Linked DNA regions of Homo sapiens: region 2 is linked to region 1. The links come from fine-mapping of genetic effects on gene expression. A gene starts in region 1. The other region holds a variant in brackets. All regions are shown on one strand. Distances are from middle to middle. Region 1 holds the start of NUBP1 (NUBP iron-sulfur cluster assembly factor 1, cytosolic). Region 2 overlaps NUBP1 (NUBP iron-sulfur cluster assembly factor 1, cytosolic).

Region 1 (10,556 bases):
ATCTATATCCTTTTTTTTTTTTAAATGGAGTCTTGTCTGTCACCCAGGCTGGAGTGCAGTAGGGCAATCTTGGCCCACCGCGACCTCCGCCTCCTGGGTTCAAACGATTCTCATGCCTCGGCCTCCCGAGTAGCTAAGACTACAGGCACGTACCACCATGCCCAGCTAATTTTTGTATTTTTTAGTGGAGACAGGGTTTCACCATGTTGGCCAGGCTGGTCTCAAACTCCTGACCTCAAGTGATCCGCCTGCCTCAGCCTCCCAAAGTGCTGTGATTACAGTGTAAGCCACCATGCCCTGCCCAACAAGTGTATTTTGAATCTGCCCAGTACTATACCTTGGGTAGGCTACAAACTCATCTCTAAGGCAGATGTAATCATCATCCCTTCATATCCAGAGAGTGAAATAAAGTAATAAAAATGGTGGCCATCACAGACCTTTACTGAGCATTGACTATTCGTCGGGCCCCGTGCTAAGTGCTTTACTGTGCCATCTCACTCAGTCCTTGGAGTCCCATTTTATAGATGAGAAAACGGAGGCAGAGTAAGCCTGGTAACTTGCCCAAGGTCACAGCAGTGGTGTAGATGGAGCTGGGACCTGAGTTTGGGCTGTCTGACTCCAGAGTGTGTGCTCTTAGCGACCCACCAACCCCTTTTATTAAAGTTGAGATCCAGAGGGCAGCAGTGGGTAATCTGAGTTTTCATGCTCGTCTGTATGCATGGGTGGAAATGAATAAACTCGTGTAAGGGCCAGCAAAAATTTTCCACAAGGGCCAACAGCAAATATATTATTAGGCTTTGTGGGCAAAATCAAGGATCATATGTAGGTACTTAGGTACTAATTTAAAAATTGCAATTTTAGGCCAGGCACGGTGGCTCATGCCTATAATCTCAGCACTTTGGGAGGCCGAGGCAGGGGGACGCCTTGAGTTCAGAAGTTCAAGACTAGCCTGGGCAACATGGCAAAACCTCATCTCTACAAAAAACCCAAAAATTAGCCGGGCATGGTGGCAAGCACCTGTAGTCCCAGGTACTTGAGAGGCTGAGGTGGGAGGATAGCTTGATGAGCCCAGGAAGTAGAGGTTGCAATGAGTCCTGATCATAGCAATGCACTTCAGCCTGGGTGACAGAGTGAGATCCTGTCTCAAACAAACAAAAAACATTTCAAAAATGTGAACATTCTTAGTTCAAAGGCCATAAGGCAGGAGATGGGCTGGATTTGGCCCACTGGCTATAGTTTGCAGGTCCCTGGCTTAGAGAAAAGCTAAAAGGGGTTAATAAAGAGGAAAAAGAAGCGTGAACGTAATGTAATAAACTATCCACATGCAAGGACAGATGTACATCTGCTAGCCATTTTCTTGGCTAGGGAATCCAGTGAAATGCTTCATTTGACTACTGGGCATTTCTTTGCTCTCTGCCGGATTGAGATTCCAAAGAGGCCAATTCAACTTAGTATAAGGAATCATTTTTTTTTCTTCTTGGACAGTCTCATTCTGCCACCCAGGCTGGAGTACACTGGTACAATCTTGACTCACTGCAACCTCTGCCTCCTGGGCTCAAGCGATTCTCATGGCTCATCCTCGCGAAAAGCTGGGATTACAAGCCTGCGCTACCACGCCCAGCTAATATTTTGTATTTTTAGTAGAGACAAGGTTTTGCCATGTTGGCCAGGCTGATCTCAAACTCCTGGCCTCAAGTGATCTGCCCGCCTTGGCCTCCCAAAGTGCTGGGATTACAGGCATGAACCACTGCGCCTGGCCTAGGAATCAGTTATTTAGTAGCCATCACGACCCTCAGACAAAATGAGCATCTCCCAGTGGTTCCTGAGGTCTCACCTGTGTGTTTTCATCCTCTGCTAGGCCATGGGCAAGGTGGGCGCTGAATGTGCTTTTCCCAACACCGCCTTTCCCAGACAATACCAAGATTTTGTGTTTTACAGTCTTCATTTTCTCTTTGATTTCCTCTATAGCTGCAAAGAAAACCAAAGTTCAGGGGATGAGGTCCCACACCAAACCTCGAATGTCACGCTTCCAGTCAACTAGAAAGAGCTAAGTCCTAGTCCTAGTACTAGTCCTGGGGCTGTTTAAAACGATCCTCTGAAATACCTCTCAGACAATGGTAGAAATAAGTGCTAGGAAGAAAATAAGGCTATTATCACACTTGAAGGGGTCTCATTTATTGGTTTACACGTTTGTCTCCCCCAACTAGAACATAGTCTCCACAAAGGTAGGAACTGTCTGAAGCTTTCAGTGCTGTATTCCCAGCTCCAGAAGAGAACTTTGCAAACAGCAATGGTCACCAACTTGGGGACAAAATCCCCCAGAGACATTTGGTAATGTCTGGAGACACTGTTCTTTCTTTCTTTTTTTTTTGAGACAGAGTGTTGCTCTGTCGCCCAGGATGGAGTGCAGTGGCGTGATCTCGGCTCACTGCAACACTGCCTCCTGGGTTCAAGCGATTCTCCTGCCTTAGCCTCCCAAGTAGCTGGGATTACAGGTGCCTGCCACCATGCCTGGCTAATTTTTGTATTTTTAATAGAGACGGTGTTTCTCTATGTTGGCCAGGCTAGTCTCGAACTTCCAACCTCAAGTGATCCACCCACCTTGGCCTCCCAAAGTGTTGGAATTACAGGTGTGAGCCACCATGCTCAGCCTGGAGACACTTTTCATTGTCACAGGAGAGGTACTGCTGGCATTTAATGGGTACAGCCCAGATTGTGCTAAATGTCCTACAATGCACAGGACAGCCCCCCACAACAAAGAGTGATCCTGCCCCAAATGTCAGCAGTGCTGAGGTTGAGAAACTCTGATAGACAGCAGGCACATACTAAGTATCTGCCAATGAAACTATCTTATTTCAAATCCTTAAAACAATACACGAGGTATAAAGGAAATTAAAAAGTCTCATGACTGGCCAAACTCAAGTGAAAGTTAAGCCTGGAAACCTCCCAACACTGCTGTCCTCCTCCCCATCAACAGACAGCTGTTACTTCCCAACCTTGTGTCAAAGCATTCTACATTAACCAGACACCTGCAAAAGGCCAAAGGCCCCATGCAATCCATTGTGGGATGACTGCCCTCACAAGTTGCTCCTAAGGAACTCCTTTGCTGGCCCCTAAATCTTTGAAGATGAGTATCCTCCCATAAACAAGGACATGCCAACTGTAACTTTAGGACTGTAACCTCAGTCTAACTCCTTCCCTATTACTGATGTCTGTTAAACGCCACACTGACCATGTCCATTACAAGCTTATCCTCCCACATGCCAAACAAAGATGGGATGAGATAGTCCTTCCTCTCCTACCCTGAGACGTCTGCCTAATTAATTCTTCCTTTATTCCCTCTTTTGAATGTTTACTTTATTTTCTGAATAGTGTAGATATACTGGGCACGAATTAAAACCTCACAAGAATGTAACTACCTGCCACGAGGCCTACTGCACTTTTTCCTGCATGCTTTTTCCCCTTTTAATGAAATATATAAACACCAGCCTTCTGGAACCACTCCATCGAGCACAGGCCACAGATGTTTCTGTCACTTGTATTTTCCAGGGCACGCCCTCAAGCTCTGGCCCAATAAACCTCCACTGAGGCTCAGTTCAGTCTCTCCATTGCATTGACAGAGATAACTATTTTTCTCTTCATTTTTTTTTTTCTTTGAGACAGGGTCTCACTCTGTCACCCAGGCTGGAGTGCAGTGGCACGATCTCAGCTCACTGCAACCTCCACCTCCCGGGTTCAAGTGATCCTCCCACCTCAGCCTCGAGGGCGGGCATGCACCACCATGCTGGCTAATTTTTGTATTTTTAGTAGAGACAGGTTTCACCATGTTGGCCAGGCTGGTCTCGAACTCCTGACCTCAAGTGATCCATCCACCCGCCTCGGCCTCCCAAAGTGCTGGGATTACAGGCGTGAGCCACTGCACCCGGCCTGTCTCCATTTTTGATGAGGAACCAGAAGCTCAGAGAGGTTAGGACTATTGCTGAAGGTCACACCGCATGGATCCAAGAATCAAATCCAAGTCTCTCTCTGAACTCCTTCAAGATTCTCCCCCTTGGCCAGGTGCAGTGGCTCATGCCTGTAATCCCAGCACTTTGGGAGGCCCAGGCAGATGCATCACTTGAGGTCAGGAGTTCGAGACCAACCTGGTCAACATGGTGAAACTCTGGTTCTACTAAAAATATAAAAATTAGCCAGCCGTGGTGGCAGGCGCCTGTAGTCCCAGGTACTCGGGAGACTGAGGCACGAGAATCGCTTGAACCTGAGAGGTGAAAGTTGCAGTGAGCCGAGATCACACCACTGCACTCTGGTCTGGGCTACACAGCAAGACTCTGTCTAAAAAAAAAGGGGGAAAAAAAAGAAAAAAAAATATTGTCCTCCTGCCTCCTGCTTTTTAAGGTCCTTCTGAGCAGGCTCCCTGGGTCCTCTCATCCTGGAATCTGTGCTTCACAGCACTTAAAGCTGCGGTGGTTTAGTTGCTAGCTCACGTGTTTGTTTCCCCAGTAAAGCTAAACTCCACTAGAGCAGTGACCACGCCTGATCCCCAGCTGTGTCCCCAGGACAGCACCAAACCTACGAGGCGATCAACACATTTCTGCTGAATGAGTGGGAGAATCACTCCTCAAAAGGAAGAAAATTGTGTCAAGAAAGTAGCTGGCAGAGCCAGGATGTAAGTCCGAAGACTCCCCGACTTCGAAGCTTATCCCGTTTTTCTCTGCGGTCTGTTATTGTCACTCAAACCTCTGGCCCCGACCCTCTTAATTAATGTCCCTTTCGACTCCGCGCCGGTCAGTCTCCACCCTCCATCCGCGCCAGGTCCTTCGCGCTCGCCTTCTAAAGGCCTCGTTCCTGTCAGTCATTCCAAGCTCCGCCCTCACCCTGCCCACTTTCCACGCCCCGCCCCTTCTGGGCCCCACCCCTCTCCGAATACAATACCTTCTAGCCTGCCGCTGTCAGTCATTCTGCAGATCCCGCCCCCTCCCTCCCACGCCCCGCCTTTTCCGGGCCTGCGCCTCTAAGTTCCTGTTGAGGCCTTGCCCTTTTCTCACCCGTGTCCGGAGTGGCCCCCGCTCCAGAAGCGCACAGCCGCTGGTTGGGGCATCCCTGACATGAAGCCCCTCTGCCCGCCTGGGCGCTGTCGGCCCCTGGACAGTCTGCGCAGAGACAAGACCACAGTTAGAGCAGCTCCCGACACTTTCGCCCCGCGACCCACGCCCCCTCCGCGAGCTTACCGTGAGGCACCTCCTCCATTCCGTCGCCTTTGCCGCCTTCGTGGTCACCGGAACCCGCTGTCGTACATTTCCGCCTTGTGGGCACAATCTGATTCTCCGACCGCGCGAAATAAGTCTCGGAAAGGGGGCTGTGCGCACGCGCGAACCTTGGGCCGAAAGACTGGGACTCAACGTCTGTTCCTTTTCAGAGATTTCCTATCATAAATACTTCTGCAGTGCATCTCCTAAGAACAAAGCCATTCTTCATGACATCAGTGCCATTTTCATACCCAAGAGATTTAATATCGATGCAGTACTAGCCAATGCAGTATTAGCCAATAGACAGTTTATATTTCAATTTCAGTTGTTAGACCCCCTCCCCTGCTGGATTCACTCACTGCCTGGAGTTATTTCTCTTCGGTCTCCTTTAATTCAGATCAGTCCTTCTTTTTTTAGGGGGGGTCTCATCACCTTGATAATTTTGACGGGTCCAGACCAGTTGTGTAATAGAATATCCCATATTCTTGATTTGTCTAATCCTCCCCTCCCTCTTGCCTTGTAATTAGATAAAGGTTAATTTTTCTTTTTTCCTGCAGAACACACTTGGATAATGTCAGTTTGTCCCGTTTTTGGTAATGTGAAGCTTGATCGCTTGCTAAAGGTGGTGTCTGCCCCATTTCTCCATTTAATGTTTCCTTCTTCCATTTGTAATTAACAGGTACTCTCTGGGACCATCTTCTTCTCTATCAGCCTTTCACTCAGTGATTTTAGCAGCATTTATATATATATATATAAAACTATAGATTATATATATGATAAATATATATCAGTTTTATACCCTCTCTTTTTTTCTTTTTTTTCGAAGACTCACTATGGATTCCTGGATTTTTTAAAATTGTCTTTTATAATCAATTATTATTCTTTCTGGTCGATTTTTTTTCCCCCAGATGTGGCCAGTGAAGCCCCTTCAAGACAGTTCTTATGTTCTTTGGGCACTAATCCAGCTTCTTTGAGCATTTTCTTGCTTTCTGATACAAGATGTTTCAGTCATCCCTTCTCCCTGCTGCAGTCATTTCTTCAGGGAGCCTTGGTTACTTTTTAGCAGACAACAGTTCAGAAACCAAGATGTGGATGCCACAAATGCTCATTGCTACTGGAGTGTCATTGCTCACAGGTTTGGCACCTGGAATATTAATGAGTGAACAAACTTTACCTAGCCCCAGACACTAAGAATATGGAAACGTTTATTTATTTATTTATTTTTGAGGCGGATTCTCGCTCTGTCACCCAGGCTGGAGTGCAGTGGTGGGATCTCGGCTCACTGCAAGCTCCGCCTTCTGGGTTCACGTCATTCTCCTGCCTCAGCCACCCGAGTAGCTGAGACTACAGGCCACCACGCCCGGCTAATTTTTTGTATTTTTAGTAGAGACAGGGTTTCACCATGTTAGCCAGAATGGTCTCGATCTCCTGACCTCGTGATCTGCCCGCCTTGGCCTCCCAAAGTGTTGGGATTACAGGCATGAGCCACCGCACCCGGCCTCGGAAACATTTATTAAACAGCAGTGTATCAGCTGCCTGTCACTACCACTAATTATAGCCAGCATTTTGTAGAATACTTACCGTTTGGCAGCTGTCATCTTTGTGCTTTCATGTGAATTACCTAATTTATGTCCTTTCATAGTCCTACTGTCTCCATTTTTGGATAAGGAAACTGAGGCTTAAAGTAAACTACTTTCCCGAGGTCGCATGACTGGTAGCAGGGGAACCAGGGTGATAAACTTGGTCTGTCTGGCTGCAGAGCCTGCACTTAGTAACACATGGTCCCAGCCAGCACTGGGCTAGATGCCAATGATTCCAGACTAACCTGGACCCTGCCATCTGGAGCACAGTCTGGTCGGGAGAAGAGGACCAGAGTGATGGGGCATCAGCAAAGGCCTGGAGAGCAGAGAGGAAGTCACCTATCAGGTAGGGACTGTTGTCATTTCCGTTTTACAGGTGATAAGATGGCTGCAAAGATTTACTTGTCCACAGTCTGAGAGGCAGAAAGAGCAGAACTGGGTTTTTAACCAAGTCTGATACAGGGCCTTTGCTATTAATCACTATACTGTATATTAGAGGGCAGGATGCAAGTTATTCTCCTTTTTATTTTTATTTTTGTGGGATGGAATCTCACTCTGTTGCTCATGCTGGAGTGCAGTGGTGTGATCTTGGCTTACTGCAACCTCCACCTCCCGGGTTCAAGCAATTCTCCTGTGTCAGCCTCCTGAGTAGCTGGGACTACAGGTGCCCACCACCACGCCTGGCTAATTTTTTGTATTTTTGGTAGAGACGGGGTTTTACCATGTAGGCCTGGCTGGTCTCGAACTCCTGACCTCAGGTGATCCACCCGCCTCAGCCTACCAAAGTGCTAGGATTACAGGTGTGAGCCACCGCGCCTGGCCAGGGCCGCTTCTTAAGGTGAGTGCTCCCCAAGACTCTGTTCTTGGGCCACTTCCAGTCCCACTTCCCACTTCCTCCTGGGCAAGCAACTGACAGCCCTGATGCTATCCATCTTCTGTCTCCAGCTCCCACACCTCTTGCTCCGTGAGTTCGGATCTGTGGATCCTACCTTGTGCCTATTGGATTTTATTGCATGGACATCCCACAAGCGTAACAAATAAACGTCTACAACTTCTTCTCAAGGCGGTTCCTGCCTCTGGATTTGTTATACCTGGACAGGGCATGACCCCTGGGCTAAGAACTCAAGCCGTAAATCTGAGTATCAGCCTTGTTTAGTTTTCTCCATCTCCATCAGTGATCAAGTGCTGTGTGACAAGTCACCCCAATATGTAGTGGTTTAAACCCACCATGGTTTATTGCTTCCTGTGACTCTTCTGGTTTCACCTGGGCTCCCTTAATGTGGCTTCATTCAGCTGGGAGTTGGCTGGAAGGTCTCAAATGGCTTCACTCTCACACTGGCCTTGATTCCCCCCTCGTGGCCTCCCTCTCTCATTTTTCAGTGGTCTAGCCTGTGTCCCTTTAAATGGCAGCTGGGAATGACAAAGCTGGGAAGTGGCAGTCACTTTCACCATGTTCTCTCGGTCAAAGTGTCACAGACACAGACTCCTCTTGTTGATTAGTGGGGTGGCGTACCTATACAGGGATGGGGGTCAGTGTTGTCCATAGAGACGCCCACAGCACCCCCTGCATCCAATCAGACATCAGGTCAGCAGCTGCACCCCTAGGTGGTAGGCTGGTAGCACACATGACCCCACTTCTCTCCCTGTCTGGATCTGTGCCCTTGGCTGCTGAACTTTGCAGTGCCCTCCCACGTGCGGGGAGGGGGTTCCATCCTACCCCTTGACTCTGTGCTCAGGCATGTGACTTACTTTAGCAAATGTGATTCAAGAAAAAGCTTGTAATGGGGCTTTTGCCTGTTTTAATCCCTCTCCAGCTCCCCTGCCACTTAAAGGTACACAGGCTAGGAGAAGGTCTGGGCTCGCCCATGGGAGGTGAAACACCTGGAACTGAGCTGAGCCACCCCTGTGCTCTCAGTGAAGGCCTCCTAAACCAGCGGCCCAAGACACATGAGAAGAGTCCAGCCAAGAGCTGCAGATCCACCCACCCAGACCCACAGATCCACCCATCCAGACCCACAGATCCACCCACCCAGACCCACAGATCCACCCATCCAGACCCACTGATCCACCCATCCAGACCCACAGATCCACCCATCCAGACCCACCGATCCACACATCCAGACACACAGATCCACCCATCCAGACCCACCGATCCACACATCCAGACCCACAGATCCACCCATCCAGACCCACAACTGGCCATAGATGCGTGAGTCCTGAAGAACCACCTGGCCAATGCACAGGCTGGTGAACTAGCTAAATGCTGGTGGTTTGACACTGTTGAGTTTGGGGTAGCTATAGACAACTGACACTCCATGCCTTCCAGCATCCCTCCTGCCTCAGCTCAGGCCCCCTCCTCCTCCTGGTCCTGCAACAGTGTCTGTTTCAGCCAGGATAGGCTAGTCTGCGCTGCCAAAACAGACATCCCCAAACTGAAGTGGCTCAAGGCAATCAAGTTTATTTTGGCATTTGCTCCATATGTAACTTCATGGACAGAGGTTCCTGCTCCCTGTGGTTCCTCAGGGACACAGACTGAAGCTCCACCGTCTCCTGTGGCCCCTTTTGAACACAGAGGACACAAGCCAGGGGAATTGTACCCTGATTCTGAAATGCTTCCACTAGAAATGACACCTATCTGCCCACTTTTCATTGGCTACAATTAGTCACACACGTCAGGTGCAGTGGCTCACACCTGTAATCCCAGCATTTTAGGAGGCCAAGGCAGGAGGATTGCTTGAGGCCAGGAGTTGGAGAACAGCATAGTGAGACCCTGTCTCTACAAAAAATTTAAAAATTAACTGGGCAAGGTGGTGCATGCCTGTAGTCCCAGCTACTTGGGAGGCCGAGGCAGGACGATTGCTGGAGTTGGAGGCTGCAATGAGCTGTTATCACAGTACTGCCCTCCAGCCTGGGCAGCAGAGTGACACCTTGTCTAAAAAAAAAAAAAAAAAAAAAAAAAAGGCCAGGCGCGATGGCTCACGCCTGTAATCCCAGCACTTTGGGAGGCCGAGGCGGGTGGATCACCAGGTCAGGTGTTCAAGACCAGTCTGGCCAACATAGCGAAACCCTGTCTCTACTAAAAATACACAAAAAATTAGCTGGGTGTGGTGGTGTGCGCCTATAATCCCAGCTACTCAGGAGGCTGAGGCAGGAGAATTGCATGAACCCGGGAGGCAGAGGTTGCAGTGAGCCAAGATTGTGCCACTGCACTCCAGCCTGAGTGACAGAATGAGACTCTGTCTCAGAAAAAAAAAAAAAAGGTTGGGCGTGATGACTCATGCCTGTAACCCAGCACTTTGGGAGGCCGAGGCGGTTGGATCACTAGAGGTCAGGAGTTCAAGACCAGCATGACTAATAGTGTGAAACTCCGTCTCTACTAAAAATACCAAAAATTAGCCAGGTACAGAGGCGCATGCCTGTAATCCCAGCTACTTGGGAGGCTGAGGCAAGAGAATTGCTTGAACCTGGGAGGCAGAGGTTGCAGTGACCCGAAATCACACCACTGCACTCCAGCCTGGGCAACAAGAGCAAAACTCTGTCGCAAAAAAAAAAAAAAGTCACATGGTCATGCCTAAAAAAGTATAGGAAGTACAGTTTTATATGACTGGAAGTGGAGGAAAACCAGATATCCAGGATCACAGTGATGTTTCCCACAGTTCCCTGAATTGTTTCTCAGTCTTAACATTCTTTCCCCATGAAAATCAGACCAAGTCACTCTGCTGCTCATAAA
Region 2 (10,556 bases), 23 kb before region 1:
CTGGCCAACATGGCAAAACCCTGTCTGTACTATAGATACCAAAATTAGCTGGGCGTAGTGGCACACGCCTGTAATCTCAGCTACTTGGGAGGCTGAGGCAGGAGAATCGCTTGAACCCAGGAGGCGGAGGTTGCAGTGAGCCAAGATCGTGCCACAGCACTTCAGCCTGGGTGACAGAGTGAGGCTCCGTCTTAAAAAAAATCAATAAATAGAGAAAACAAAATATTTGTAGATAGTAAAACAACAGTGTCATTTAATGAAAGTGCGGGCCCTGGAATTTGGATCCCGGCTCGACCACGCTCCAGCTCTGTGACCTTGGGCAGCTTTCGTCTTCCTGAGCCTCAGTTTCCTCTTTGTAAAATGGGATGATGATGGTGGCAACCTCTCCAGTTGTAATGATTCTGAGGTGTCCGTGGGTATTTGCAAATGCTCAGTAAATGTTGGCTGTTACTATTCTTAGGTGCAGGCTAGAGCATTTCTACGTGGCTTGAGAGGTGCATTTCTGTAAATGCTCTTAGAAAGTGACCTTTGCGTCAGATGGAGACCATCCTGGCTAACATGGTGAAACAGTGTCTCTACTAAAAATACAAAAAAATTAGCCAGGCCTGGTGGCGGACGCCTGTAGTCCCAGCTACTCGGGAGGCTGAGGCAGGAGAATGGTGTGAACCCGGGAGGCGGAACTTGCAGTGAGCTGAGATCGTGCCTCTGCACCCCAGCCTGGGCGACAGAGCGAAACTCTGTCTCAAAAAAAAGTGACCTTTGCTTTCTTTGTCTGAGTGCAGGCTCTGGTGGTTGCTGGGATCTCTCTCCAAGCTGCAAACCTGTATGGCTACATCCTTTGTAAGATGGGAGGCAACAGTGACATTGGCAAGGTCACAGCCAGTTTCCTGTCCCAGACAGTGTTCCAGACGGTGAGTAACTGAGGTCTGACTCTTGGACCACTCCTCTCCAGGTAGTCAAAGTCAAGGTGGCCTGCTGGCAACTGCGGTTTGTAATGTAACATATCCGCCAGGCTGCCAATGTTTTATTGTTTATATATTTTTTGGGAGACAGGATCTCGCTCTGTCACCCAGGCTAGAGTGCAATGGTGTGATCGCGGCCTATTGCAACCTCCATCTCTTGGGCTCAAGCGATCCTCCCACCTCAGCCTCTGGCACAGTTGGGACTACAGGTGTGTACCACCATGCCTGGCCTTTTTTTTTTGTAGAGACGAAGTTTTGCCATGTTGCCCAGGCTGCTCTAGAACTCCTGAGCTCAAGCAGCCCGCCTGCCTTGGCCTCCCAAAGTGCTGGGATTACAGCCATGAGTGAGCCACTGTGCCTGGCAGTTTTGTTTTTTAATTGTAAGATTTACATAAAATGTACCATTGTAACCATTTTAAAATGTATAGTTCTGTGGCATTAAGTATAACCACTTTATTGTGCAACCTTCACCCCACCCAGCTCCAGAACTGCTTTCATCTTGCAAAACTTAAGCTCAGTACCCACAAAACACTAACTCCCCCTCCTCCTCGCCTCCTAGCCCTAGCAACCAGCATTCTGCTTTCTGTATCTATTGGTTTGACAGCCCTAGGGACCTCCTATAAGTGCAATTATAGTTTTTGTCCTTTTGTGACTGCCATTGTTAGTTTTCAGTGATTTTTAAAAGTATAGAATTAAGGAAAGAGTCACAAACGGTTTTTCAATTTTTTTTTTTTTTTTTTTTTTTTTTTTGAGATGGGAGTCTCACTCTGCTCCCAGGCTGGAGTGCAATGGCATGTGTTGGCTCACTGCAACCTCCGGCTCCGGGTTCAAGTGATTCTCCTGCCTCAGCCTCCCAAGTAGCTGGGATTACAGGTGCATAACACCATGCCTGGCTAATTTTTGTATTTATAGTAGACGGGGTCTCTCCATGTTGACCAGGCTGGTCTCGAACTCCTTGCCTCAAGTGATCTACCAGCCTTGGCCTCCCAAAGTGCTAGGATTACAGGCGGGAGCTACCGTGCCCAGCTTGTTTTTGTTTTGTTTTTTTTTTTTAACTTAATAGATATTTCTAAAAGTGAGAGACAGAAGTCTTTGAAATTTGACCAGGTTCATCCTGAAATGGGTAGAACCGTCCTAAATTTGAACAGCACTGCTTTATGCCAAGACATCAAGCAACCAATTCCGCAGGTTTTCTGTACTTTGTGGGTTTTCTCTGGCCTTCCATCAGCAGGATCGCCCCACTCGCGTGTAAGGACAGAAAACCATGGTTGACTTTTCCCCTTGCAGGCCTGCCCAGGTGACTTTCAGAAGCCTGGCCTCGAGGGGCTGGAGATTCACCAGCATTAGGTGAGAAATGGATCATGGCACCCGTGTGGAGGAACTGGGGAATTCTGAAAAATGCAGCTCTTGGGGCACAGGGGCCCGGGGTCTGGGTGGGCTTCCCCTGTTCCCTGGGGTGGCCAGGCATGTGACCAGGCAGGAAGCAGACTGGGCAATGGGCCTGCCCTGGGCTTTGCAGCCTCATTGCTCTTGGCGTGAGGAGCTGGGGGTCGGGGGGCGAGGTCACACCTTCCTCACACTGAACATGTGCAAATCTGATCATATGTATGGTCCTAGGGAAGGGCGGGGAGGGAAGAGACAAGGGAGGGAAAGAACAAGGGGATTTGTTCTTGTTTCCCACCCACCCACTTTTATGCCCCAGAGTGGAGGGAAAACAGGAATTTACTCTTCTCCCACGTGGTCTCAGATCCTGTGTGTCTCAAACAGAGCAAGCACCTCATGGCAAAGAGGATGATCGTAGAGTTTACATCTGTCCCTCTTTTTTATATAATTAAAAAACCTGAAAGTTGGTTTGCATGACACTGGACATTACTGGATATACTGTGCACATATTACTACACAGGGAATTTACACAGACCCCACATTCTGTCTTACTGGGTGATTCAAGGACTCTTCAAGGGCTTTTTGATTTGACCCAGCTGTGTCATATGCAGTGATTTTAGAACGAAGCCCAGCCTGAGCTCTGTTGCTTTTAGATTTTTCCTCAATCTGAAGAAAAGCGTTTGGACTGTGGTGTTTGAAAACAAGCCTGTGTGTTCTGCAGTGAAGCCGCACACTCACCCCTTTGGTTCTTTTCTAGGCTTTCTTATCTTCACAGGCAGAAATGGCTTAAACGGGAGTTTCTACAATCGACTAAGCTTCCGACACAGCAGAATCCCACGATCCCACAACCCATTTGTTTTTTACGTGAAACAGGCCTCGGGGGAGAGATTTGAGGGGGTTTTATTCTTAAAACGGCACATTTGTAGAGAATGCCCTTTATATATGTTCTAAAGAAAAGTGTACAAATACTCAATGATTAAAGTGTCTCTGAGAAAGTGGCTTCGGACCACACCAGCATCTGGTCCTTTTGCTGTGACCCACCCCATCCCGGAGCTGGTCGGGTCTGGCTGGATGTGCTGCCCAGTGAGTGCCTCGCTCGGTAACTGCTTGGTCCTGAACATTCTCTCGTTTCAGGAACTGATGAGGTTCTCTTCTTTTGACTGATGGAGATTACAAAACTCTTGGATTCCTGGAAAACAAGACGACAGGCATAGAGTGCTAATGGCTTGTCTACCCCTTGACAGCCCTGTCCTGTGCTGGGGAGGGCTGTGTTTTGACAGGGGTGGAATCCTCTGGCTAGTTCCATAAAAAGACCTGTGTCTGTGATGCCCTGAGTCTTTGAAAGTGACCGGAATACCTCACACTACCCATCTTGCTCATAACCAGTGGCTGCGGCCTTCCTCGGACCATCTATAGATGGAGGATTCTGGGAATGCTGTTTCCTTACCCTTGACATCATTCTTCTAGGCAAGTAAAACCCAGCCACAAACTCAGAGACCACAGCTTTAACAAACACTGACACCTCTGCCCTAACTCTGGGGCCTCTGATGGCTGCCACTGGCTGAATGTGGCCTGCACGTGGGTTTGGTCTGGCTCAACAAAGTTTTTATTTTTATTTTTTATTTTTTTGAGACACGGTCTCACGCTGTTGCCCAGGCTGGAGTGCAGTGGCGCGATCTCGCCTTACTGCAGCCTCCGCCTCCCAGGTTCAAGCGATTCTCCTGCCTCAGCCTCCTGAGTAGCTGGGACTACAGGCATGCGCCACCACACCCGGCTAATTTTCATATTTTTAGTAGAGACAGTGTTTCTCCATGTTAGCCAGGCTGGTCTTGAACTCCTGACCAGCCTCAAGTGATCTGCCTGCCTCCTTCACCCAAAGTGCTGGGATTCCAGGTGTGAGCCACTGCACCTGGCCTTTTTTTTTTTTATCAGTTACTTTTAAAAATGAATTACTTTATCCCTTTATTGGGATGTATTTCCTAAGCCATAAATTTCACCCTCACCATGTTTTTTAAACTATGAATTAATTCACAATACTCACACATTGAGAGATTTCTCATGGACTCCTGGCTTCCTCGGCTATGGGGGCCACTCTGTGGTCATCACAGACCCCACCACCCACCTGTCCTTCCACACCCCTGGCTCCTTTATGTTGCTTCCTGCCCCACAGGCATCTGCATTTAGTACTCATGGAAATACTTACTCTGAATTATACTTCTGTAGGCTAACGTGGCTGGGGAATCTGGGGCGTCAATGAAAAAAGACTGGCCTTTGTCACAATTCTTACCTTAAAAAAGAAACAAACGGAAGACAATTCAGTCCAAGAGGAAAACAGAATGGCCACAAGATCTTGGGGCTCTTTCCGTGCTGGTGACAATGGGAAGATCTTGAGCCCGCTTCACTCGTAATGAAGAACAAAGTAGAAAAGACCAGTGGGGTCTCAGGGACCTTCCTTCCAGCAGGGTCCCCAGCCAGCATTTCAGCGTGGCTAAATAATCAGGTGGTGTACAGAAAATGCAGGTTCCAGGGCCCTACAGAGAACTGATTCAGCAGCTTCCACATGGGCCCAGGAGTCTGCATTTTAAGAGATTAGCTTTTGAGTGAAAGGATCATGAATGCACATGGTTAAAAAAAGTACAGAATGCAAAAGGATATGGCATAAAAGGCCAAGTCCGAAAAGGGCTACTAGTGTTCTAGGTGTCTTTCCAGAAAGATTATGCGCATATAAATGTGCACACTTGCATGTGTGCGCACACACATACACACACTCTCATATACCTAAAATACGAATGGGAGCACATGACACACACATTCTGCCTGCTGCTTTGTCTGTGTATAATTTTATCTTCCAGGTCATCTGTGCTGGTGTCTATCAGTCTGCTAGTCTTTCCCCGCCATGTGGCCATTGTTCCAGTCCCCTCCTATGCACACCCAGGTTTCTCTAGGACCATGTTATCCCAGAGCCAGGTGGACAGGACACAAGGGGCTAGGGGTCAATGGGGGTGTTCTCGCCTCCAGTCTGCCCTGCCAGCCCCCAGTCGTGGGTGGACCTGCCATCAGCTTGCTCTGCCCACTCCCCAGGCCTGAGCTGCTGGCGAAACAGGCAAGTGACTGCACTGCCCATGGCCGGTCACCAGCCTCAGGTGAACCCCAGGAGGGGTTCCTACCTAGCACTCATCATTTCCTCAACTTCACTACTGTGTCGCCCTGTGGGACAGGGAAGTCCAAGTCGGGGAAGAAGCCTGTGGGGAGGGGTTGGTGGGAGATGGGGAGCCCATATGGCCCAGTGAGTCAGGAAAATAGGGTCCAGAGGCAGGGAACATAAGGCCAATTCGCACTTGAGCCATAACAGGAAATGTCCTCTCCATAGGACGTATGCCGTAAATGACTTTGTAACTTTACTTCATCCTTTTCGTTTATATAGGGCGTACCTCAAGTAGAGGGTATTTAAACACAAAAACTCTGTAATGGGGCCTTTGAGCCCCTATTCTCAGGCCCGTTCTCCTCCCACACCGTGGAGTTGACTTTCATTTTCAATAAATCCCTTCCTTCCTTCCTTTCTTTGTGCGTTTTGTCCAATTTTTTGTTCCAGACACCAAGAACCTGGACATCCTCCGCCGTTAACGCTGGGCCCATGAGACCATGTGGAACTCGCTAGGGAGGCCCCTGAGTGCACGTTCGCTGGGCCAGACCTGGGAGGTTGGGGATCCCAGAATAGTCATGCTGGGGCTACTTTCTGTCCCTGACTTTCACCCAGGTCTCCCTTCCCCAGAGGGCTCCCCAGCCCCCAACACACATATATGCTCTAGTGTTTTCCCTTCCTAACTGCATTTCCCCCTGGGCTCCCACCTCTCCAAGAACGGGCAGCATTATCAGAACAGCTGGTGTGAGCACAGCCCTGTTCCAAGAGATCCCAGGCATCCTCTCACCCCACCCTGGCAGATCCCTCTCACTAGGCACCACTGTCACCTGCATTTTACACACGGGGCCATCGAGGCTGAGAGCGGAAATGACTAGCCCAAGTCCCACAGCTAGTGGTGGCGGAGCAGGGCTCTGAGGCCAGCCCTTCCTGTGATCCTCAGCACACCGGGACCAGGACCCATAGCACCAGAGCGCTGGCATCTGTAACTCTTTGCCACCATGTCCCCAGAGGAGACTGAAGTGCTGTCCTCATGCCTTCCTGTCTGTTCCTAGGAAGGTGGGTTTTCCCCCACTCTGTCCCCAGTGACCTTGCCAGATGCGTGTCTGTCACTTGGCCCTCATGCTCCACCCTCTTGGGTGGGTGACAGTGTTAACCACCCCTTCCTTTCTGGCACTCCCTGGCCTTGCTATCTGTGGCTTCCCCTCAAGGTGAGCTTCTGCAATGTGCCATTTGACACACAGGACCATGCC[C/T]ACTAGAAGGCACTTAATGTTCTCAGCTCAGAATGAGCCTCGCAGCTGTCACTGGTGGCTCCTCTGCTTTGAAATTAGCTCTTGTGAACCACCTGGAACTTTGTTTCTTTGTGAAAAGTGGCCCTGAAAGGAAAGACCAGGGCCAATGCCAGGGCTTGGTGTGAGGGAGGTGGGAAGATGGAGGTTGCTGGCTCTTTGGAAGAAAAGCCGTATCAGGATCTAATAGCCCCAAGGTCACTTCCTGATCTGTCAGACAATGGCAAGGGCAGGCCTGTGGCTGGGCCCGTGGACATATTTGGGTGGGTCAGCAAGCATGCCATTTTTAAATTTTTTTTTGAGACAGGTTCTTGCTCTGTCGCCCAGGCTGGAGTGCAGTGGTGTGATCATGGCTCACTGCAACCTCAACCTCCCTGGGCTCAAGTGATCCTGCTAACTCAGCCTCCTGAGTAGCTGGGACCACAGGCACATGCCACCACACTGGGTGAATTTTTTCCTTTTTTTTTTTTTTTTTTTTTTAAGAGATGAGGTATCTTCCTGTGTTACCCAGGCTAGAGCATGGTTGTGTGTGTGTGTGTGTGTGTATTTAATGGAGTTAGTTGCTATCATTTAGTATCAGGAGACTTTGGGTAAGGATATAGATTTCTAGCTCTTCATTAAACCTTGGAAAATGTGGCAATTGTGATGGCCATAAGGACACACCTCTTGGATCTCTGGCAGCAGCTGCCATGCTCCAAAATCCACCACCACGTTTGTGTTGAGGCAATGCCACTCCCAGGCTGCTCCTAGCTAGTGACTGAGACGAGCATGGCACTCGGGCAGGCACGCTTCTGGGAGATGCAGCCCCTCTGATGGGTAAGTGGGCTCAGGAATGCCCTGGTGGCTGTGCCCAGCTTTCCTCGACAGCAGCCAAGACACTCCAGCAGACAGATGCTCCAACAGACTGACATACTCCAGCAGACTGAGATGCTCCAACAGACTGACATACTCCAGCAGACAGATGCTCCAACAGACTGACATACTCCAGCAGACTGAGATGCTCCAACAGACTGACATACTCCAGCAGACTGAGATGCTCCAACAGACTGACATACTCCAGCAGACTGAGATGCTCCAACAGACTGACATACTCCAGCAGACTGAGATGCTCCAATAGACCTACTCCAGCAGACTGAGATGCTCCAATAGACTGACATACTCCAGCAGACTGAGATGCTCCAATAGACTGACATACTCCAGCAGACTGAGATGCTCCAATAGACTGACATACTCCAGCAGACTGAGATGCTCCAATAGACAAATACTCCAGCAGAATGAGATGCTCCAATAGACAAATACTCCAGCAGACTGAGATGCTCCAATAGACTGACATACTCCAGCAGACTGAGATGCTCCAACACACTGGCATACTCCAGCAGACTGAGATTCTCCAATAGACAAATACTCCAGCAGACTGAGATGCTCCAACAGACTGGCATACTCCAGCAGACTGAGATGCTCCAATAGACTGCCACACTCCAGCAGACTGAGATGCTCCAATAGACAAATACTCCAGCAGACTGAGATGCCAAAAAGCAAAGTACACTGAGGTGCTCCAGCAGGCTAAGATGCTCCCATGGGCTGAGATGCTCCAGTGGGCTGAGACGCTCCTTCGGGCTGGGATGCTCCCGTGGGCTGAGATACTCCTGTGGGCTGAGATGCTCCTTTGAGTTGGGATGCTCCCGTGGGCTGAGATACTCCTGTGGGCTGAGATACTCCCTTGGGCTGGGATGCTCCAGTGGGCTGAGATGCTCCTTTGGGCTGGGATGCTCCCATGGGCTGAGGTACTCCTGTGGGCTGAGATGCTCCTTTGAGTTGGGATGCTCCCGTGGCCTGAGATACTCCTGTGGGCTGAGATACTCCCTTGGGCTGGGATGCTCCCATGGGCTGAGATGCTCTTGAGGGCTGGGATGCTCCCTTGGGCTGAGATGCTTCCAGGGGCTGAGATACTCCTATGGGCCGTGATGCTCTTTCGGGCTGATATGTTCCTTCCCCCACTCCTTCATCGTGGGCTAACGCTCTCCCTTGTCATTTTCTCCCACAGATGTTTCCCCTGACAAACGTCCTGCCCACCAATCCCATCTCGGCAGAGCTGAACTGTGGCAGAGGTGCAGGCTGGCAGGAATGGATGTGCCCTGGGCTGCTGCAAGCTCCTGTCCCCAATCACATCCATTCATGCAGCCCAACTGCCTCCAGGGGCCTCAGAGGGCAGCTCTCATCACCACTTCCGGCCACTGCAAAAGCTGCCTGGTGAGTGTTTTATGATGCTGGGGAAGGTTGAGAAAGCAGCTGTACTTTTCTGCATGTTGTTGGGGAAATCACATGCCAGAGAAGTATTGTGGGATGTGGGAATAAGGGAAAAAGGATTTGGGGACACAGCCTCCTGGGCACATGGGGTCTCTGGCGTTCTCCCGGGCTGTTCCCATCTTCAGAGTGGCCCTCGCACCCTACCCCCCTACCACTTCCTCGAGGCAGCCATCCCCCAACACTGTCCTCCTGGCTCCCGCTTTCTGCACGGCCCCTTGGCAATCCTGTCCATGTCCTGTGGCTTCAAAACTCAACTGCACGGACATGAACCACCTTCTCCTGACGGACCCCAGAACCTGCTGACAACCTGAGCCCCCGAGCCCCTTAGCCGCAGCACCCCAGAGGGCCCGGCCTCCCTCTACCACCCCTGCTTCACTGTCTCTGAGGGACGGACCCTCCTCCAGGTGACTTGTACTGGCAGCAGGGACAACCTTGACCCTCAGATGCCGTCACTTTCTCTCTTGTGTGTGTCCCTTCCTTTCTACACCAACGCCAGAACCCAGGGCCTCATCCTGAACCCCTATCCCAGGGCAGCCACTCCTGAGCCTCCTGTTCCCAGGCACATGACACTGACAGTCGTTTCCCACAGGCTCCCATTCTCCCCATGCAGCCCTTCCCCAAGGCTCCCCACGTGGCCTCCGCCCTCCCCGCCTCCAGGCTCTCCACGGGCCCCGCCCTCTCCCCAAGCACGCGGCCCCCACCCTCTCCTGGCCAGGCCATACTTCACCCGCCCGGCCCCTCTCTCCTGTCCCGGCACAGACACCTCACACTGGCCTTGGTTCCCTGACAAATGGAGTGGAAGTTCCGAGGCATGGGTGCAGCCGGCACTCCTGGATCCCGGCCTCCCCTCCAGCCTTCTCTCTCTGTTCTCCCCTCAGACCTAAAGGCGAGTGCTGGACGCCCCGCAGGAGCCCCACTAAAGGGCCCCAGTAACGGAGGCCCGCCCGGCTCCGCGGTCCTGGGGGACAGCAGCCTCCTGGGGGAGCAGCTTCGAGTGTAGGCCCTGCCCAGCGCCCCGCGGCGAGTGGGCGCCCGGCGGGCGTGTGGGTGGAGACGTGAAACCCCGTCCCTCCTTCAGCCTCAGGGCCACTCAGGGAGTGGGCATCTCTTGGGATCCTGGGAGACCCACGTACTTAAGAAGAGCATTTTTTGGGAACTTGGCCCCTGCTCGCAGGCCAGTGATCCGCGTTCCGGTCTGTCCCGGTGCTGGAGACAAAGGGGCCTCATCTGTGCCGTGCTGGCTTCTCCGGGCACAGGAGGCCCGGCCCCTTCCTAAGGGATTTTCACCTCAGGCCGCCTTCCTCTGTAACCTGGACGCCATGTGCATCCCCTGGAGCCGCCCCTCTATCGGGTGCCCTCCTCAGTCCCCTGCCACCACCACCCTCACCAACCTCTACCCCATTCTTCCAGGCCTCACCCCTCTGCCTGAGGCCTGCTTGCTCCCGCTACCTGCCCGCAGGGGTCTCGGCCTCTCTC

The links.
Region 2: its variant is fine-mapped to the expression of NUBP1 in whole blood (TOPMed, PIP 0.99).

What each region holds. Positions count from the first base shown.
Region 1 is chr16:10,738,555-10,749,110 of GRCh38, reverse strand. NUBP1 (NUBP iron-sulfur cluster assembly factor 1, cytosolic) reads right to left here and starts at 5,269. Exons shown (of 11, transcript NM_002484.4): 1 at 5,229-5,269; 2 at 5,046-5,150; 3 at 1,835-1,968. The coding sequence starts at 5,247. RefSeq lists an enhancer at 5,411-5,460.
Region 2 is chr16:10,762,025-10,772,580 of GRCh38, reverse strand. It overlaps NUBP1 (NUBP iron-sulfur cluster assembly factor 1, cytosolic), which reads right to left. Exons shown (of 11, transcript NM_002484.4): 10 at 4,549-4,632; 11 at 3,230-3,534. The coding sequence ends at 3,476. TVP23A (trans-golgi network vesicle protein 23 homolog A) reads left to right here. Exons shown (of 8, transcript NM_001079512.4): 6 at 783-911; 7 at 2,250-2,309; 8 at 3,480-5,906. The coding sequence ends at 2,309. Among named protein-coding and RNA genes, the nearest start is that of NUBP1, 23 kb to the right of the region's middle. The variant C/T (reference allele first, on the strand shown) is at 6,738.